Linked DNA regions of Homo sapiens: regions 1, 2, 4 and 5 are each reported to be linked to region 3. Evidence: microRNA targets listed by miRTarBase, many of them from high-throughput screens and not tested one by one. Region 3 holds a microRNA gene; each other region holds the end of a gene's coding sequence.
What was found. Region 3 holds the annotated microRNA hsa-miR-6797-5p (AGGAGGGAAGGGGCUGAGAACAGGA, at 1,722-1,746, opposite strand). A microRNA usually pairs through its seed, bases 2 to 8, with sites in the 3' UTR of a target mRNA and lowers its output. Matches are read on the target gene's strand: a 7mer-m8 pairs with bases 2 to 8, a 7mer-A1 pairs with bases 2 to 7 and ends in A, and an 8mer does both.

Region 1: miRTarBase lists PODXL as a target of hsa-miR-6797-5p. Seed matches in the 3' UTR shown: 7mer-A1 at 1,448-1,454.
Region 2: miRTarBase lists EMP1 as a target of hsa-miR-6797-5p. The part of its 3' UTR that is shown has no 7-base or 8-base seed match.
Region 4: miRTarBase lists RAB1B as a target of hsa-miR-6797-5p. Seed matches in the 3' UTR shown: 7mer-m8 at 626-632 and 7mer-A1 at 1,387-1,393.
Region 5: the mRNA of FBXO44 is a reported target of hsa-miR-6797-5p. Seed matches in the 3' UTR shown: 7mer-m8 at 2,008-2,014.

Annotation. Positions count from the first base shown.
Region 1 is chr7:131,500,501-131,504,561 of GRCh38, reverse strand. PODXL (podocalyxin like) reads left to right here. Exons shown (of 9, transcript NM_001018111.3): 9 at 54-4,061. The coding sequence ends at 251. Among named protein-coding and RNA genes, the nearest start is that of PODXL, 54 kb to the left of the region's middle.
Region 2 is chr12:13,214,089-13,218,149 of GRCh38, forward strand. EMP1 (epithelial membrane protein 1) reads left to right here. Exons shown (of 5, transcript NM_001423.3): 5 at 446-4,061. The coding sequence ends at 603. Among named protein-coding and RNA genes, the nearest start is that of EMP1, 19 kb to the left of the region's middle.
Region 3 is chr19:41,867,314-41,871,377 of GRCh38, reverse strand. MIR6797 (microRNA 6797) reads right to left here and starts at 1,751; the gene lies at 1,680-1,751. RPS19 (ribosomal protein S19) reads right to left here. Exons shown (of 6, transcript NM_001022.4): 4 at 2,164-2,347; 5 at 1,625-1,679; 6 at 1-27. The coding sequence ends at 1. RefSeq lists an enhancer at 1,345-1,903.
Region 4 is chr11:66,275,924-66,279,984 of GRCh38, forward strand. It overlaps RAB1B (RAB1B, member RAS oncogene family), which reads left to right. Exons shown (of 6, transcript NM_030981.3): 5 at 1-12; 6 at 121-1,569. The coding sequence ends at 315. CNIH2 (cornichon family AMPA receptor auxiliary protein 2) reads left to right here and starts at 2,252. Exons shown (of 6, transcript NM_182553.3): 1 at 2,252-2,614. The coding sequence starts at 2,534. It overlaps LOC107984340 (a long non-coding RNA gene), which reads right to left and starts at 2,602. Exons shown (of 2, transcript XR_001748274.1): 1 at 2,572-2,602. RefSeq lists a silencer at 2,028-2,357.
Region 5 is chr1:11,660,821-11,664,881 of GRCh38, reverse strand. It overlaps FBXO44 (F-box protein 44), which reads right to left. Exons shown (of 6, transcript NM_033182.7): 6 at 1,555-3,752. The coding sequence ends at 3,609. It overlaps FBXO6 (F-box protein 6), which reads right to left and starts at 682. Exons shown (of 6, transcript NM_018438.6): 1 at 627-682. RefSeq lists an enhancer at 107-156 and silencers at 277-346, 397-616.

The DNA of each region.
Region 1 (4,061 bases), not on the chromosome of region 3:
AAGCTCAGAGCCCTCTGAAACCCCCTTCTCACCGGTCACCTTCCCCACTCTAGCAGCGGCTAACAGAGGAGCTGCAGACAGTGGAGAATGGTTACCATGACAACCCAACACTGGAAGTGATGGAGACCTCTTCTGAGATGCAGGAGAAGAAGGTGGTCAGCCTCAACGGGGAGCTGGGGGACAGCTGGATCGTCCCTCTGGACAACCTGACCAAGGACGACCTGGATGAGGAGGAAGACACACACCTCTAGTCCGGTCTGCCGGTGGCCTCCAGCAGCACCACAGAGCTCCAGACCAACCACCCCAAGTGCCGTTTGGATGGGGAAGGGAAAGACTGGGGAGGGAGAGTGAACTCCGAGGGGTGTCCCCTCCCAATCCCCCCAGGGCCTTAATTTTTCCCTTTTCAACCTGAACAAATCACATTCTGTCCAGATTCCTCTTGTAAAATAACCCACTAGTGCCTGAGCTCAGTGCTGCTGGATGATGAGGGAGATCAAGAAAAAGCCACGTAAGGGACTTTATAGATGAACTAGTGGAATCCCTTCATTCTGCAGTGAGATTGCCGAGACCTGAAGAGGGTAAGTGACTTGCCCAAGGTCAGAGCCACTTGGTGACAGAGCCAGGATGAGAACAAAGATTCCATTTGCACCATGCCACACTGCTGTGTTCACATGTGCCTTCCGTCCAGAGCAGTCCCGGGCAGGGGTGAAACTCCAGCAGGTGGCTGGGCTGGAAAGGAGGGCAGGGCTACATCCTGGCTCGGTGGGATCTGACGACCTGAAAGTCCAGCTCCCAAGTTTTCCTTCTCCTACCCCAGCCTCGTGTACCCATCTTCCCACCCTCTATGTTCTTACCCCTCCCTACACTCAGTGTTTGTTCCCACTTACTCTGTCCTGGGGCCTCTGGGATTAGCACAGGTTATTCATAACCTTGAACCCCTTGTTCTGGATTCGGATTTTCTCACATTTGCTTCGTGAGATGGGGGCTTAACCCACACAGGTCTCCGTGCGTGAACCAGGTCTGCTTAGGGGACCTGCGTGCAGGTGAGGAGAGAAGGGGACACTCGAGTCCAGGCTGGTATCTCAGGGCAGCTGATGAGGGGTCAGCAGGAACACTGGCCCATTGCCCCTGGCACTCCTTGCAGAGGCCACCCACGATCTTCTTTGGGCTTCCATTTCCACCAGGGACTAAAATCTGCTGTAGCTAGTGAGAGCAGCGTGTTCCTTTTGTTGTTCACTGCTCAGCTGATGGGAGTGATTCCCTGAGACCCAGTATGAAAGAGCAGTGGCTGCAGGAGAGGCCTTCCCGGGGCCCCCCATCAGCGATGTGTCTTCAGAGACAATCCATTAAAGCAGCCAGGAAGGACAGGCTTTCCCCTGTATATCATAGGAAACTCAGGGACATTTCAAGTTGCTGAGAGTTTTGTTATAGTTGTTTTCTAACCCAGCCCTCCACTGCCAAAGGCCAAAAGCTCAGACAGTTGGCAGACGTCCAGTTAGCTCATCTCACTCACTCTGATTCTCCTGTGCCACAGGAAAAGAGGGCCTGGAAAGCGCAGTGCATGCTGGGTGCATGAAGGGCAGCCTGGGGGACAGACTGTTGTGGGAACGTCCCACTGTCCTGGCCTGGAGCTAGGCCTTGCTGTTCCTCTTCTCTGTGAGCCTAGTGGGGCTGCTGCGGTTCTCTTGCAGTTTCTGGTGGCATCTCAGGGGAACACAAAGCTATGTCTATTCCCCAATATAGGACTTTTATGGGCTCGGCAGTTAGCTGCCATGTAGAAGGCTCCTAAGCAGTGGGCATGGTGAGGTTTCATCTGATTGAGAAGGGGGAATCCTGTGTGGAATGTTGAACTTTCGCCATGGTCTCCATCGTTCTGGGCGTAAATTCCCTGGGATCAAGTAGGAAAATGGGCAGAACTGCTTAGGGGAATGAAATTGCCATTTTTCGGGTGAAACGCCACACCTCCAGGGTCTTAAGAGTCAGGCTCCGGCTGTAGTAGCTCTGATGAAATAGGCTATCCACTCGGGATGGCTTACTTTTTAAAAGGGTAGGGGGAGGGGCTGGGGAAGATCTGTCCTGCACCATCTGCCTAATTCCTTCCTCACAGTCTGTAGCCATCTGATATCCTAGGGGAAAAGGAAGGCCAGGGGTTCACATAGGGCCCCAGCGAGTTTCCCAGGAGTTAGAGGGATGCGAGGCTAACAAGTTCCAAAAACATCTGCCCCGATGCTCTAGTGTTTGGAGGTGGGCAGGATGGAGAACAGTGCCTGTTTGGGGGAAAACAGGAAATCTTGTTAGGCTTGAGTGAGGTGTTTGCTTCCTTCTTGCCCAGCGCTGGGTTCTCTCCACCCAGTAGGTTTTCTGTTGTGGTCCCGTGGGAGAGGCCAGACTGGATTATTCCTCCTTTGCTGATCCTGGGTCACACTTCACCAGCCAGGGCTTTTGACGGAGACAGCAAATAGGCCTCTGCAAATCAATCAAAGGCTGCAACCCTATGGCCTCTTGGAGACAGATGATGACTGGCAAGGACTAGAGAGCAGGAGTGCCTGGCCAGGTCGGTCCTGACTCTCCTGACTCTCCATCGCTCTGTCCAAGGAGAACCCGGAGAGGCTCTGGGCTGATTCAGAGGTTACTGCTTTATATTCGTCCAAACTGTGTTAGTCTAGGCTTAGGACAGCTTCAGAATCTGACACCTTGCCTTGCTCTTGCCACCAGGACACCTATGTCAACAGGCCAAACAGCCATGCATCTATAAAGGTCATCATCTTCTGCCACCTTTACTGGGTTCTAAATGCTCTCTGATAATTCAGAGAGCATTGGGTCTGGGAAGAGGTAAGAGGAACACTAGAAGCTCAGCATGACTTAAACAGGTTGTAGCAAAGACAGTTTATCATCAGCTCTTTCAGTGGTAAACTGTGGTTTCCCCAAGCTGCACAGGAGGCCAGAAACCACAAGTATGATGACTAGGAAGCCTACTGTCATGAGAGTGGGGAGACAGGCAGCAAAGCTTATGAAGGAGGTACAGAATATTCTTTGCGTTGTAAGACAGAATACGGGTTTAATCTAGTCTAGGCACCAGATTTTTTTCCCGCTTGATAAGGAAAGCTAGCAGAAAGTTTATTTAAACCACTTCTTGAGCTTTATCTTTTTTGACAATATACTGGAGAAACTTTGAAGAACAAGTTCAAACTGATACATATACACATATTTTTTTGATAATGTAAATACAGTGACCATGTTAACCTACCCTGCACTGCTTTAAGTGAACATACTTTGAAAAAGCATTATGTTAGCTGAGTGATGGCCAAGTTTTTTCTCTGGACAGGAATGTAAATGTCTTACTGGAAATGACAAGTTTTTGCTTGATTTTTTTTTTTAAACAAAAAATGAAATATAACAAGACAAACTTATGATAAAGTATTTGTCTTGTAGATCAGGTGTTTTGTTTTGTTTTTTTAATTTTAAAATGCAACCCTGCCCCCTCCCCAGCAAAGTCACAGCTCCATTTCAGTAAAGGTTGGAGTCAATATGCTCTGGTTGGCAGGCAACCCTGTAGTCATGGAGAAAGGTATTTCAAGATCTAGTCCAATCTTTTTCTAGAGAAAAAGATAATCTGAAGCTCACAAAGATGAAGTGACTTCCTCAAAATCACATGGTTCAGGACAGAAACAAGATTAAAACCTGGATCCACAGACTGTGCGCCTCAGAAGGAATAATCGGTAAATTAAGAATTGCTACTCGAAGGTGCCAGAATGACACAAAGGACAGAATTCCTTTCCCAGTTGTTACCCTAGCAAGGCTAGGGAGGGCATGAACACAAACATAAGAACTGGTCTTCTACACTTTCTCTGAATCATTTAGGTTTAAGATGTAAGTGAACAATTCTTTCTTTCTGCCAAGAAACAAAGTTTTGGATGAGCTTTTATATATGGAACTTACTCCAACAGGACTGAGGGACCAAGGAAACATGATGGGGGAGGCAGAGAGGGCAAGAGTAAAACTGTAGCATAGCTTTTGTCACGGTCACTAGCTGATCCCTCAGGTCTGCTGCAAACACAGCA
Region 2 (4,061 bases), not on the chromosome of region 3:
AAGAAGGCAGAAAGGTAGGAGTTCTCAGAAAGATGAAACCACTGCCACAATGCACATCATTATTGTGATTCTCACTTAATTGTTGTTCTTTCCCAATATACTCGGTTTGGTGGAAGGACATGCTCTTTTGCATCCCTGAGTAGCTTTCCTAGACCCACAAGGGCCAGACAGGACAGCTGGGTGGTAGGCATGAGGTTCTGTGTTTTACATCACAGCGTGGCCACACAAACCAGTGCAGACATGAGAGCCCAGACACCTCTAATTTATCAACATACCGTCGAGCTTGGCCCAGGGGACATCCATCAGAACTCCTGTTTAGGGACAAACAAGCAGAATTCATTTTCCTATTGCTAATGAGGGAAATAGGATCTTCTTAAAATTAGTAAAACTTTTTCTCGACTTTAATGTAAGAAAACACACCGACAAATCTCCTTTTCCCCTGCAGGGCTGTGCATTCTTGTGGGGGTGTCCATCTACACTAGTCATTATGCGAATCGTGATGGAACGCAGTATCACCACGGCTATTCCTACATCCTGGGCTGGATCTGCTTCTGCTTCAGCTTCATCATCGGCGTTCTCTATCTGGTCCTGAGAAAGAAATAAGGCCGGACGAGTTCATGGGGATCTGGGGGGTGGGGAGGAGGAAGCCGTTGAATCTGGGAGGGAAGTGGAGGTTGCTGTACAGGAAAAACCGAGATAGGGGAGGGGGGAGGGGGAAGCAAAGGGGGGAGGTCAAATCCCAAACCATTACTGAGGGGATTCTCTACTGCCAAGCCCCTGCCCTGGGGAGAAAGTAGTTGGCTAGTACTTTGATGCTCCCTTGATGGGGTCCAGAGAGCCTCCCTGCAGCCACCAGACTTGGCCTCCAGCTGTTCTTAGTGACACACACTGTCTGGGGCCCCATCAGCTGCCACAACACCAGCCCCACTTCTGGGTCATGCACTGAGGTCCACAGACCTACTGCACTGAGTTAAAATAGCGGTACAAGTTCTGGCAAGAGCAGATACTGTCTTTGTGCTGAATACGCTAAGCCTGGAAGCCATCCTGCCCTTCTGACCCAAAGCAAAACATCACATTCCAGTCTGAAGTGCCTACTGGGGGGCTTTGGCCTGTGAGCCATTGTCCCTCTTTGGAACAGATATTTAGCTCTGTGGAATTCAGTGACAAAATGGGAGGAGGAAAGAGAGTTTGTAAGGTCATGCTGGTGGGTTAGCTAAACCAAGAAGGAGACCTTTTCACAATGGAAAACCTGGGGGATGGTCAGAGCCCAGTCGAGACCTCACACACGGCTGTCCCTCATGGAGACCTCATGCCATGGTCTTTGCTAGGCCTCTTGCTGAAAGCCAAGGCAGCTCTTCTGGAGTTTCTCTAAAGTCACTAGTGAACAATTCGGTGGTAAAAGTACCACACAAACTATGGGATCCAAGGGGCAGTCTTGCAACAGTGCCATGTTAGGGTTATGTTTTTAGGATTCCCCTCAATGCAGTCAGTGTTTCTTTTAAGTATACAACAGGAGAGAGATGGACATGGCTCATTGTAGCACAATCCTATTACTCTTCCTCTAACATTTTTGAGGAAGTTTTGTCTAATTATCAATATTGAGGATCAGGGCTCCTAGGCTCAGTGGTAGCTCTGGCTTAGACACCACCTGGAGTGATCACCTCTTGGGGACCCTGCCTATCCCACTTCACAGGTGAGGCATGGCAATTCTGGAAGCTGATTAAAACACACATAAACCAAAACCAAACAACAGGCCCTTGGGTGAAAGGTGCTATATAATTGTGAAGTATTAAGCCTACCGTATTTCAGCCATGATAAGAACAGAGTGCCTGCATTCCCAGGAAAATACGAAAATCCCATGAGATAAATAAAAATATAGGTGATGGGCAGATCTTTTCTTTAAAATAAAAAAGCAAAAACTCTTGTGGTACCTAGTCAGATGGTAGACGAGCTGTCTGCTGCCGCAGGAGCACCTCTATACAGGACTTAGAAGTAGTATGTTATTCCTGGTTAAGCAGGCATTGCTTTGCCCTGGAGCAGCTATTTTAAGCCATCTCAGATTCTGTCTAAAGGGGTTTTTTGGGAAGACGTTTTCTTTATCGCCCTGAGAAGATCTACCCCAGGGAGAATCTGAGACATCTTGCCTACTTTTCTTTATTAGCTTTCTCCTCATCCATTTCTTTTATACCTTTCCTTTTTGGGGAGTTGTTATGCCATGATTTTTGGTATTTATGTAAAAGGATTATTACTAATTCTATTTCTCTATGTTTATTCTAGTTAAGGAAATGTTGAGGGCAAGCCACCAAATTACCTAGGCTGAGGTTAGAGAGATTGGCCAGCAAAAACTGTGGGAAGATGAACTTTGTCATTATGATTTCATTATCACATGATTATAGAAGGCTGTCTTAGTGCAAAAAACATACTTACATTTCAGACATATCCAAAGGGAATACTCACATTTTGTTAAGAAGTTGAACTATGACTGGAGTAAACCATGTATTCCCTTATCTTTTACTTTTTTTCTGTGACATTTATGTCTCATGTAATTTGCATTACTCTGGTGGATTGTTCTAGTACTGTATTGGGCTTCTTCGTTAATAGATTATTTCATATACTATAATTGTAAATATTTTGATACAAATGTTTATAACTCTAGGGATATAAAAACAGATTCTGATTCCCTTCATTGTGTGAATGTTTTTTTCTAAAAAAAATGTGGAGAAATATGGATAATTATGACATTTATCCCTCATTAAGCTGCCTATCAGTTTGATTTGGACAACTTGACATTTATTTGAGACATTAAGCTACTTTCTGGTAATATATTAGGCATTTCTGCAATAGCTCTTTCAGGTAACTGAATATTATTAAGCATAGTTTTATCTTGCTTTGATTAAACCTCTTAGGCAAAAAATGGAACTTCATAAGCTAATACATTAGAAAGGGGTTATGATTATAAATCAGAAATGCTTGTGACATTAAGAAATGAGGCACTTGTGAAATTTCTTTGAAATAGCCAGCTCCTCTAATGTGTCTTCAAAATATAAAGTGATTCACAAAGGCATGCATCACACCTATTTGTAGCAGCCCATTCATTACATAAACCAGGGCATACCTGTGTGGGCTCTGTGAGTGAAGGGAGGCTTCACTACTTTCTGTGAGCAGTAAGGACTGGTATCTTTCTGTGAGCAATAAGGACTGGATAAAGACTGCATATCCTTGTGTCGTGTCAGCACCAATACAATAAGGAGGGTTTTAATGTGAAGCAGGCAATCTTCCAGCCCCTTCTGGTCTTGGATGAAATAGTTGCACAGAGTATTGCACCAAAAATACACAATGGAGGCTGAAAAGTTCAACATATTTTAAGTCAATTAATCAAATTGCATTGATTCTTGATGCTTTCTTAGAGGCCTACATGATTTCTTAGATTGCTCTGATAAACTATCATAAGGGGTCCACCTCCCCTCATTTAGCTCCCCCAGGGATTTCTTTTCCCCCATGTCATACACCCAGTCCTAAATCAACCCCCAAGGCTATCCTTCCATCCCTTCTGCAGAGGGAACTTTTGTCAGACTCTGCAACAAACTCCTAGCTCTATCCAGAGTGTCCTCTGCTGCTAAGATTGGTATCTTTCTCCTCAAAAGCCTGGATGGTGAATGGGGGTGCATTAGTCAGAATTCTCCAGAGAAACAGAAAAAATAAGATTCGCGTGTGTGTGCAAACATATATATAAATAAATAAAAATATATTTATTTTAAGGAATTGACTCACATGATTTTGAAGGCAGGCAAGCCCAAAGTCTGCAAGGGGTGGGCCAGCAGAGAGCTGGTGCTACAGTGCGGGTCTGAAAGTTGCCAGAGTCCCTTTTATAGAGAAGCTTAAAAAATATTTGTTGAATTAAATGTCTTAGGTAGAGACAAATTGAATTAAAGTGGTTAAGTAAATACTCTTAGGTGAAATTTGTGCAAATTATGAGTATAAAGAGGGTGAGCTACAGAACTCTCCATGACCACTCAAGAATGGGACCCAAAGGCAAATGATAACTTATTCATTCATCAAGG
Region 3 (4,064 bases):
CTAATGCTTCTTGTTGGCAGCTGCCACCTGTGGGAAAAGATGGAAGAATAAAAGTTAGTCAAGGGGGTCTCTGCTGGGGCACTTTGTAACAGCTACCTAACTACCCACCACAGGTGGGCACCCCGATTTGTGGTTTCAAATGCATCTATCTCATCTAATTCTCACTGTGGGTATTCCCCCATTTCACAGACGTGGAAACTGAGTCTCAAGGGAGTGGCCAGGCACAGTGGCTCACACCTTTAATCCCAGCACTCTGGAAGGCCGAGGCAGGTGGATCACCTGAGGTCAAGAGTTCGAGACCAGCCTGACCAATATGGTGAAACCCTGTCTCTACTAAAAATATAAAAACTAGCCAGGTGTGGTGGTGTGTGCCTGTAGTCCCAGCTACTCGGGAAGCTGAGATAGGAGAATTGCTTGAACCCAGGTGGCAGAGGTTGCAGTGAGCTGACATTGCACCACTGCACTCCAGCCTGGGCGACAGAGCAAGACTCTGTCTCAAAAAAAAAAAAAAAAAAAAAAAAAAAAAAAGGAAGGGAGTGGCGGAGTGGAGTCCAAATTCCGCCCACTGCCATGTGAGAAGGCCAACATCCAACCACCAGCAATGATGTGTGCGCCAAGCCCCACTCTGCCTGGAAGAGCTTTCTCCTTCCAGACCACCCCCAACTCCTAGAGGGCTGACACTTTCCATTCTTTTGTGACACTTGACTGACTAAATGCTCCAAGGCTCCTAGGAGGCCTGAGTCAGTGATACAGAATTGAGCTCATGCCAGGCCCTGGGTGCTCCTGCTGTACTATAGCTCACTGACTCCTCACTACCATGCTTGAGGTGGCCAAGGGTAGATTTTGGCCACAGGGAGGCCAAGACAGGAGACTGTGGCACCAGGGGTGTGGCCACTCTGCCCCAGGGTGTTGGCCAGCCAGGATCTGAATGGAGACCTGGGTTCTGAACCAGCCCCCCTCCCTTATCTCCACCTCTCCCAAGCAGCCCATGTGATGCTCAGTACGCATGAGGACTAAGGGGAAACATCGCAGGCTGACCTGGGGAGGGGGAGTCATCTACGGGTACAGCTATGTGCTCTGTGGATAGATGCCCAGTGGCACCTGGGCTGGAGTTCCCTCCAATTTTTTTTTTTTTGAGATGGAGTTTCACTCTTGTTGCCCAGGCTGGGGTGCAATGGCATGATCTTGGCTCACCGCAGCCTCCACCTCCCGGGTTCAAGTGATTTTTGTGCCTCAGCCTCCCCAGTAGCTGAGATTACAGGAATGTGCCACCACACCCGGCTAATTTTGTATTTTTAGTAGAGACAGGGTTTCTCCATGTTGGTCAGAATGGTCTTGAACTCCTGACCTCAGATAATTCGCCTGCCTCGGCATCCCAAAGTGCTGGGATTACAGGGGTGAGACACCACAGCCAGCCTGCCTCCAAATTTCTAAGCAGCACCAACAGGAAAAGTCAGACAGGACTGTCCTTTCTCCTGTCTCTGGGCAGCCCTCCTCTGACCCCACCAGCACCCTGGGCTGTGCCCTCCAGAGAAGGAAATAAGTCTACCTGACAAAGTATGGGCTTTGGAAATGCTTGGGCAGCGACTAAGGGACCCAGCCCCACCCCAAACGCAGGCCTTACCTGTCCGGCGATTCTGTCCAGATCTCTTTGTCCCTGAGGTGTCAGTTTGCGGCCGCTGTGGGGAGGGAAGGGTCATGCAGGCCCCAGTGAGCACAGGTCCTGTTCTCAGCCCCTTCCCTCCTGGCTGTGAGCCAGGCTTCTCAAAAAGCCACCTGCCGCCAGCCAAGTCCCACTGAGGGCCCTAGTCAGGTGCATTCTAACGAGCTGGGGGCAGTAGTGGGAGCCCCCCTGGGAGCTGACGGGGTGTTGTTTGTGCAAGCATTTAGATCAAAAGCCCCGAAAAATCAATTGGGAAAAGTTAACGAGCAGGCTAATGAAAGCAGATAGTCGCTAAATTACCCTCCTGGAGCCTGGGCTAGTCAGCCAGAGAGGTCGGGGTGAGGCCCCGTGCTGTTTGCTTTTCTGCAGAATCCCCTCCTGCCTGCCTCTGATAGGAGGGGCCTGAGGGGCTGGGCAGACTATGCAGGACCATTCGTTGGGGAATTGATGACCGGGCCTCAAGGCTACTCCATCAATGCAGCCCCCTCTACCCTGCTTACCCATCTTGGTCCTTTTCCACCATTTTCAGCCCCTCCAGGGCTTGGAGGACCCGGCGGGCCACACTCTTGGAGCCTCGGCTGAAGTGGCTGGGCATGACGCCGTTTCTCTGACGTCCCCCATAGATCTTGGTCATGGAGCCAACCCCAGCGCCACCCCGGAGGTACAGGTGCCGCGCTGTGGAAGCTGGGGGTAGTGTGAGAGGGAGATTTAAGGGTCTTGATCAAGGTCTCAGGTAAACAATTCCTTGTGTGTAAACAGCTAATTCTCACTGTTTTATAAGAAGGGAAACTGAAAACACACACTAACACCCAGAAACTGACAGCCCCCTCTCCTCACCCACCCCCCCGGCTAGCTCTTCCTTGACAAACAGCCCTGCACCCTGGGTGGGCACTCCCACCATCTCCAGGGCCAACTTCTTTAGTGGTTACTATCCCAGCAGCACTGCTGTTGAATTGAACCTGAGGTTATGTAGGGGTGGAGCCTAGCTGTGACCATCTCCATGGGCCCCAGAGAAGCAGGAGTGAAGGGACCTATTGCCACTCTCCGGGCCACCTCAGTCTGGAGAGCTCAGGATAACAAGGGCAGGGCAGACACTCTGTGCAGTGGGTGCCCCCTGCTTGGAATGTGTACCAGCCCCTCTGCAGACACAGGGAAGGCTGGCTTGGGCAAGTCCCTGGTCCACCCCAGCCAGCCTCCTTGCCTGCAAAAAAAGCTCCGTAAAATCCAGTCGACACACCAGCCTCCCCAGAAACGCTTGCACGCTTCTATTAACTGGAGCACACATCTGCCAGGCCCTGTGCCAAATGCTTTTCGATCTCTCCACCCTTCTTCACCTGAGGGCCGGGTTACTCTGAGGACTCAACAGGTGTGTCAAGTGCTACTCTCCTTTAAAGAGTGAAACTGAGGTGCCAGAGGGTACTCACTGGCTCCGTGTCACACAGCTCTGGAGGAACTGCCCTGTCCTGCCACTGTGATGGCACCGGGGCCCACATGCAGGAAGCACCCAGATTTCAGCCATCACATGGTCCTGCCTAGCTCTGGAGCTCAGAGCAGAGTCTGGTTTGTTCCTGGGACCCAGAGATCAGCAAGTTGGTCTGAGTCTGCTCTAGTGATTTCTTTCCTCTAGTTCTAAAGATCAAGTGGGGGAATTGGGGGTTCTTCCATAACTGCCAAGTGCCAGGCAGTAGTCTGTGTGGGGTGGGCTGCTTCTGCCCAGAAACAGTTCTTACACACCGCTTGTTCCCAGCCCACTCCTGCCCTGAGATCAGGTCCAGATACAGCCAGCCCTTCATATCCACAGACTCAACCAAGGGTGGATCAAAAATATTTAGGGGAAAAAAACTACAATTCAAAACAGTGTAACAATTATTTACACCGTATTAGTGCTTTTTCTTTTTTCTTAAAACACAAAAAAAGGGCCTCATTCTGTCACCCAGGCTGGGGTGCTGTGGTGTGATCATAGCTCACTGCAGCCTCGAACTCCTGGGCTTAAGCAATCCTCTTGCCTCAGCCTCCTAAGTAGCTGGGACTATAAGTATGTGCCATGTCTGGCCTGTATTAATCTATAAGTAATCTACAGATGATTTAAAATATATGGGATCAGGCCGGGCGCAGTGGCTCACGCCTGTAATCCCACCACTTTGGGAGGCTGAGGCGGGAGAATCACCTGAGGTCAGGAGTTTGAGACCAGCCTGGCCAACATGGTGAAACCCCATCTCTACTGAAATTACAAGAAAATTAGCCAGGTGTGGTGGCACACCCGCTGTAACCCCAGCTACCTGGGAGGCTGAGGCAGGGCAGGAGAATCACTTGAACCTGGGAGGCAGAGGTTGCAGTTAGCCAAGATCATGCCACTGCACTCCAGACTGGGTGACAGAGTGAGACTCTGTCTCAAAAGTAA
Region 4 (4,061 bases), not on the chromosome of region 3:
ACCACAGCCAAGGTAGCAGACGGGCCGGTCTGCCCGGGGTCGGGGCGCTGGGGCCTGCTGCCCCTCACCTGCTCTCCCCTCCTCTTCTCTCCCCTCCTCTTCTCTCCTCTCCCTTGTCAGGAGTTTGCAGACTCTCTGGGCATCCCCTTCTTGGAGACGAGCGCCAAGAATGCCACCAATGTCGAGCAGGCGTTCATGACCATGGCTGCTGAAATCAAAAAGCGGATGGGGCCTGGAGCAGCCTCTGGGGGCGAGCGGCCCAATCTCAAGATCGACAGCACCCCTGTAAAGCCGGCTGGCGGTGGCTGTTGCTAGGAGGGGCACATGGAGTGGGACAGGAGGGGGCACCTTCTCCAGATGATGTCCCTGGAGGGGGCAGGAGGTACCTCCCTCTCCCTCTCCTGGGGCATTTGAGTCTGTGGCTTTGGGGTGTCCTGGGCTCCCCATCTCCTTCTGGCCCATCTGCCTGCTGCCCTGAGCCCCGGTTCTGTCAGGGTCCCTAAGGGAGGACACTCAGGGCCTGTGGCCAGGCAGGGCGGAGGCCTGCTGTGCTGTTGCCTCTAGGTGACTTTCCAAGATGCCCCCCTACACACCTTTCTTTGGAACGAGGGCTCTTCTGTCGGTGTCCCTCCCACCCCCATGTATGCTGCACTGGGTTCTCTCCTTCTTCTTCCTGCTGTCCTGCCCAAGAACTGAGGGTCTCCCCGGCCTCTACTGCCCTGGCTGCAGTCAGTGCCCAGGGCGAGGAATGTGGCCAGGGGATCCAGGACCTGGGATCCAGGGCCCTGGGCTGGACCTCAGGACAGGCATGGAGGCCACAGGGGCCCAGCAGCCCACCCTTTCCTCTCCCCACTGCCTCCTCTCCCTTCCTACACTCCCAGCTCGAGCCGTCCAGCTGCGGTGGGATCTGAGTATATCTAGGGCGGGTGGGCGGGTAGCAGTGCTGGGCCTGTGTCTTGAGCCTGGAGGGAGTCTGCTCCTGCCGCCCTCTGCCCTGCCAGAGACAGACCCATGCGCTGCCTGCCCACCGTGCCCCTTTGTCCCCATGTCAGGCGGAGGCGGAAGGCCCACCGTGCCAGAGGCTGGGCACCAGCCTTAACCCTCACTCTGCTAGCACCTCCTCCCTTTCCCCAAGGTAGCACATCTGGCTCACTCCCCACTCCGTCTCTGGAGCCCACCAGGGAAGGCCCTCATCCCCTGCCGCTACTTCTCTGGGGAATGTGGGTTCCATCCAGGATTGGGGGCCTCTCTGCTCACCCACTCTGCACCCAGGATCCTAGTCCCCTGCCCTCTGGCACAGCTGCTTCCTGCAAGAAAGCAAGTCTTTGGTCTCCCTGAGAAGCCATGTCCCTCGTGCTGTCTCTTGCCTGTCCCACCTGTGCCCTGCCCTCCAGCTTGTATTTAAGTCCCTGGGCTGCCCCCTTGGGGTGCCCCCCGCTCCCAGGTTCCCCTCTGGTGTCATGTCAGGCATTTTGCAAGGAAAAGCCACTTGGGGAAAGATGGAAAAGGACAAAAAAAATTAATAAATTTCCATTGGCCCTCGGGTGAGCTGAGGGTTTTTGCAAGGAAGTTGTGGTGGCCAAGTGTGGTCTGTGGTCTAAGCCCAGCCTTGGGGTGGGGGGATGGAACTGGAACCCTGGGCTTGGTGGGGTGCACGGGGGTCCTGGCTTGGTTTCTGTGTCCTAAGGCTGCTGGCAAAAGCCCTTGACCCCGTTTCCTGAGGCCAGGAAAGCTGCTTGTGCTTCTGTGGTCTGTCCCCAAGGGCCCAGCACCGTTCTGTCAGGGAAAGAGGCAGGCGGCCATCAGCTCATACCTGGCGTGCCGCCGCCAACTCCCGCGGGGCACACGGCAGAGGTGTGGGGTCGCGCAGCCGCTGAGAGGGCCCCCACTGCACCTGGCCCAACCTCCTTCAGCGCCCCCCAAAACCCCACTGCTCCCATTCAGCCCCTGTCCTGGCGTCATTGTGTGTCCCAGCCAGGTGCTTCTGCCGTCTCCGACAGTGACAAGTGCCTCGCACTTCAGCCTTTGCCCTGAGCGCCCGCCCGAGGGGGCCGAGTGCGGCTGTGCCGGTGGCTGGAGTGCCGAGGGGTGCGGGGTGCCGGGGGCGGCCGCGTCTACGCTGTCCGGAGGGTGAACGGCCGCGGGCTTGTCGGGGCTGGGGGTGGCGCCCGAGCCGGGCGGGCAGACGAGGGGCCCGCGGAGACCCAGCCCCGCCCGAGGCCGCTCGCGCGGCGGCCCCGCCCCCGGCTCCGCCCCGCCGGCTTCGCGGGCTGGAGAGCGAGGGAGCCGCGGGCGAGGGATCGCAGGATGAGCGATCGGGGCCCGGGCAGCCGGCAGCGGACGCGCCCCCCGAGCCCACCGGCCCGCGCCCCGCGCCCCCCACGGCCCCGCGGTCCCGGTCCCGGCCGCATCACCCACGTCCCCCGAGCCCCACGGGCCATGCCCGGCCGGCCCTAAGCGCGGGCCGGGGGGCGTCCCCTTGCGCCCGGGCCCCGCGCTGGCGCCCCCCGGGCCGCCGCCCGGCGCGGGGGCCATGGCGTTCACCTTCGCCGCGTTCTGCTACATGCTCACCCTGGTGCTGTGCGCCTCCCTCATCTTCTTTGTCATCTGGCACGTAAGGCCGGGCTGGGGCTGGGGCTGGGGGCGGGGTGGGGGGCAGGGGCCACGCGGAGCTGGAGGGACCCAGGGCGGGTGGTCTCAGAGCCCAGGGGAAACTTGCTATCCCCCAGCCGTCGGCTTGTCGGCTTCGCCCCCATTAACACCCCCCGTGGTCGGCTTTCTTCCCGGGGCCCCCCTTCCTCCGCCGCCCCCGCCTGTCTGTGTGTATGTCAGTCGGTCTCTGACCCCCTCCTCTGCCCTCGTCCTCTGCTCCCATGCAGCCCGTGAGGTGGGGGGTGGAATTCTGGCATTTTTGTTGCTTTATCTTCTATGTCCCCCCCCACCACCATCCAGCCGCCTCCATTAGTCCGTCGGGCAGTTTGTCTGTCTGCTGCCCCCCCCCCCCCGCCTTTGTGGGTTTTTCCAGCCAGAGTGATGGAGCTGGTTGCTATGGCAACTGCATCTGTTTACAGGACCCACAGATCTCAGAGTCCATTAACCCTTTGCCTTCCCAGCCCCCTCCCTGACCAAGCAGCAGTTGGCTCTCATCAGCCCCCAGAGACCTAGCCCCCACCACCGGCTCACCTTGGGTTTCCCTACCCCTCCTGTTGGGGGCTTCCCAGCCCCCCAGGTTTCCTCTCCATTTTCCAGCTTCCCTCCTCTTCCTGTCCCCCTTCCCCTTTGTCTCTCACATACCCCTTGGTCTGTCCCTCGCCCTGGCCTAGCCTCACACCTGGTTCTTCAAAATGTCCATTCCTCATCCTGCATCCGACCCATCGCTTCCCCCAGGCTCCCTCCTCCTCCCCTCCCGCTCCTCTCCTCCAGGGCCTCCTCTGCCTGGCTCCCGTCCCCTCACTACAGAACTATCAATCAGCCTCCAGCTGGTTGTTGGGGGCCCCTGGCCCCACTTTACTGCCCTCCGTCCCCACCCCCACCCAAACCCCGTGCCTGTTTCTGTAACAGCCTGCCCAGCTCGGCCCTGGCTGGCTCAGCTCAGCATCCTCTGCTCACACCTCCCGCGCACACCTCCCTGATTGTCATTCCCTTTCAGGGGTCCTCTTATCCCTCCCTCAATCCCATTTCCCATAGCCCTTCCCTCCTTCCTCCCGGTGCCTCACCTGCTTCTTTCCCGGGCTCTCCACTTCCTCTCTCCTTTCTCTTCCTGGGACCTGCCGCCTGCTCCATGGTTCCCCCTGCGCTCCCTTTGCCATCCCCTGCCACCTTGCTCTTTGACATCGGGAATCCATAGACTGAACCCCTACTGTGTGAAGAGTGAGCCCCCAAAGGCACCTCAGCACACACCCCAGCTCCAGCCCTGTCACTCCTTGGCCTGGCTCTGCTCTCTCTCTGGGTCTTGGTTGCTTTGTCTTTCCCCCTCTCCCCCGCACCCCGAGTTACTCTATTTTTCTTTCTGTGGGGTAGGGGCAGGAGGGCTAGGGTTCTAAGGACTGGAGGGAGCTGGG
Region 5 (4,061 bases), not on the chromosome of region 3:
TGGGCATTTTGTGGTGGGGAAGTCCATGCCAGCCCTAGGAAGCCCTCTCACACCGATCGGGGTCCCCAACTGCCCGGCCCGGCGTCTCGTGCTCGCCTTCTCCGCACCCACCCTCCCAGCAAGCTCTAGTGGCATTGTTACTTCACCGGTTTCTCGGAAACAGAAACTGTGGCTGGGGCAAGGCAAGCGCCGGATCTCGCAGGCGTGTGGGGGCCTGGAGGTCCCTTGACAGTTCTCCGAACCCGGCGCCGGCCTCGGGATGTGGCCGGGGTGGAGGCGGCCGCAGAGCCTCCGCCTGGGTGGCCCCGGGGCCAGGCCCCCAGTCGAAGTCCGGGCCCAGCCGCCCGCGCCCCCCACCCCTGGCCGCCCGGACCAGCGCCCGCAGGCTCCGTGAACGCCCAGGCGCCGGAGACCCCGGCTCCCCACTCGCCCGCCGCCCGTCCCCCCGGGGACGCGACCTGGGCGCAGCGGCGGAGCTCCAGGTCGGCCCGAGCCTACGGCCTCGGCTTCGTTGTCGCTGGGCCCCGCCGCCGCGTCACGCGCTGCGCTCGGTCCCCACCCCCGCCCCGGACCCCGCTGCCGTCCCTCTCGGCCCGGCCCCTAACCCTCGCCGCGGGAAGACGAACCTGGGATCCCCAGGGCCCGGGCCCTCGCTGCGGCCTGCGTGTCCTGAAGCTGTCTCCCCCTCCAGGCGGCGGGCGGCTCAGCACCCACACCTGCACCCGCCTCCTACGCAGGGCCGAAGCTCCCGAACGCGCGGCCGCTCCCCGGACCTCCGCACTAGTTCCTTCCTTATGCGGCCCAGGGCTCCACCCTTGACCCGCGGTCCCCTCCCTAGAGGCAGGACCTGACACCCAGTGGGCTCCTTCTTTCCCTAGGGCGTGACCTCCGCAGGCTTCATAGACTCAAAGGTAAAAAACCTGAGGTGCTAGGAGGTGGCTAACGCCTGTGATCCCAGCACTTTGGGAGGCCGAGGTGGGGAGGATCGCTTGAGGTCAGGAGTTCGAGACCAGCCTGGCCAACATGGCAAAAACCCTGTCTCTACTAAATATACAAAAATTAGCCGGGCGTGGTGGCACAGGTCTATAATCCCAGCTCCTCCGGAGGCTGAGGTGGGAGAATCGCTTGAACCTGGGAGGCTGCAGTGAGTGGAGACTGTACCACTGCACTGCAGCCTGGGCGACAGAGCCAGACCTTGTCTCAAAAAATAAAAAACCTCTGAGGTTTTTTATCAGGATTAAGTTCATGAATTTCTTCCATCAGTCAACAAATATTTAGCAAGCACCTTGTTCAGGCAACCACCAAGGGTTGTGCAGGCTGTGTACTGCACAAGGGGACTGGCCCAGGACACATTAATTGCAGTCAGGGCTACATGTTCTCCGTGGAAGGCCGTCCTTTTGCAGTTTGCCATGGGCTGGTGGGTGGTGATCCTGCCCTGGCCAAAGCCCTTATCTAGCTCACCCTTGACTGAGATAGCTAAATGTGAGGAGTACTTATTGAGCACTGGATTATAGTCCATGTTCACACTGCTATAAAGAAATACCCGAGACTGGGTGATTTATAAAAGGAAAGAGGTTTAATTGACTTATAGTTCCATATGGCTGGGGAAGCCTCAAGAAACAATCGCTGGGCGCGGTGGCTCACGCCTGTAATCTCAGCACTTTGGGAGGTCGAGGTGGGTGGATCACGAGGTCAGGAGATTGAGACCACCCTGGCCAACATGGTGAAACTCCATCTCTACTAAAAATACAAACAAAATTAGCCGGGCATGGTGGTGGGCGCCTGTAGTCTCAGCTACTCCAGAGGCTGAGGCAGGTGAATGGCGCGAACCTGGGAGGCAGAGCTTGCAGTGAGCTGAGATTGCGCCACTGCACTCCAGCCTGGGCGACAGAGCGAGACTCCATCTCAAAAAAAAAAAAAAAAAAAAGAAAAGAAAAGAAAAAAGGAACTTACAATCATGGTGGTGGAAGGTGAAGGGGAAGCAACGACCTTCTTCACATGGCGGCAGGAGGGAGCCGGGGAAACCGTCACTTGTAAAACCATCAGATCTCGTGAGAACTCACTCACTATCATGAGAACAGCATGGGGGAAAACCGCTCCCATAATCCAATCACTTCCCACCAGGTCTCTCCCTAAACACCCAGGATTACCATTCAAGATGAGATGTGGGTGGGGACACAAAGCTTAACCATATCACGCACCAACTGTGTGCCAGGCACCATTCTAAATGCTTCGGCTTCATCCAATGTCCGTAAAGCTGTTGGCAAAGAGTAACACCAGGAGGCAGAGCCTGGGTGGCACTGCTGATCTGGCACAAGGTGGACTCAAGAGCTGCCCAGAGATGTCCACACACCCCAACCCCAGCCTGTGGCTGGGCCTCCAGAGGAAGCCAGCAGTACTGGACGGCTGCCAGGTGAGATACCTGCAGCTCACTGAGGGGTCTGCCCATGAACCTGTTTCTGTGATGGCCTGGTTCCTGAAATGCCAACCCCTCTGTACCTTAGACAGAAGCCATGCCATTGTACCATCTGCAGGTCCAGGCAGGACCACCTAAAGTCTGCCTTTCCTTCCAGAAACCACAGGGCACAGGTTAGACTGGGCACACCTTTTATTTGGCTGCATGCAGTAGGGCGAAGTCAGGAGAACACTGCTATCTTTCCAGCAGGACAAGAGGCAAGTTCCAAGGGTGGTTGGCTGGGAGACAGAGGTCTTGGGAATGGCAGTTCTAGGGGTGGGGTGGGGGCTTGGAATGCTCTCCAAGCCAGAGGGGGCCGGGCCTGGATTTGGGAGGTGGACAGGGGATTCTTCAAACCCCCTACCATACTCATCCAGGGCTCATGTGTCCAGCTGTCAGAGCAGGTCCCAATCCTGCTCCCCATCTACCCTGGGACATCCTGTACAGGATTCCCTCAGTCCTCTGGGAACCTAACCCCACCTGGTACCCATCTAGCTTCTGGGGCTCCACTGACAGTGAGGACAGTCCACACCCGACCTGGACCCCACCCCACCCTGGGTCTGTCCATCTCAGTCCCGGCCTGAGCCTCTGGGCCAAAGCCACCTCTTCTGAGCAGGCAGGCAGAGCGAGAGACTGGGAGCAGCAGACAGGGGCAGAGCACGGCCCATGAGCCCACCCTCCACTTCCCAGATTGGTCAGAGTTACATGGTCACCTCCCTGCACCTGCACCATCAGGGCAGCTGCAAGCTTGCCAGTTGTCTTGCCTGTCCCTGCTCCGAGGGTCAAAGAACACAGGTAGAATGGTCCCAGGAGGGGAAGGGAGAGACAGATCCAGGCTGGCCTCCAAGCTCGACTTTCTGAGGGGCCCAGGGGAACATGCTGCACCTCCCACATCTCAGGTGCTCCGTCTCTGAAAGGGGCACACGCAGGCTTCCCCGGCCATCATTCAGGTCAAGACCTTTCGGGGAGAGCTGGCCCGACCCCAGCATGCGAGGGCTGCCCACACTGAGAGGCTCCACAAAGAAGAGGCTGCTAGGGGCAAGGGTTAGAGGTCTGGGGACACCTGGCCTCCACCTCCCCTTCCCAAGCCCAGCCCTTTTCTGACAGCAGTTGTTTACCAGTCAGGGTTCAGCAGATGGGGGCTCAGGGGGTGTCAGGGCAGCGGGGGCCCGATGGTGATGCTGCTGTTGGTGACCCTCGGGCCGTACCAGCCGGCCCAGTAATGAGTGTCCACGCCGCCGTGCTGAAACCAGATGTAGCGGACGCCGGGCGGGTAGTTGGAGAATGTGTGGGAGACCTGGCAGGGCAGGTAGAGGGGGGAGAAAGGTCAAGGGAGCTGACTCAGGCTGGGTGTGGCGGCTCACACCGGGAATCCCAGTACTTTGGGAGGCTGAGGTGGGAGGGTTGTTTGAGCCCAGGAGTTTGCAACTAGTCTTGTCGCAAACCAGAGAGTGAGATACCATCTCTACAAGAAAAAAAAAATTAGCCAGGCATGGTGGTGTGTGCCTGTAGTTCTAGGCAGGCTGAGGCAGGAGTACAGGCTAAAGTAGGAGTTCAAGACTGCAGTGAGCTGTGATCACGTCACTGCGCTCCAGCCTGGGCAACA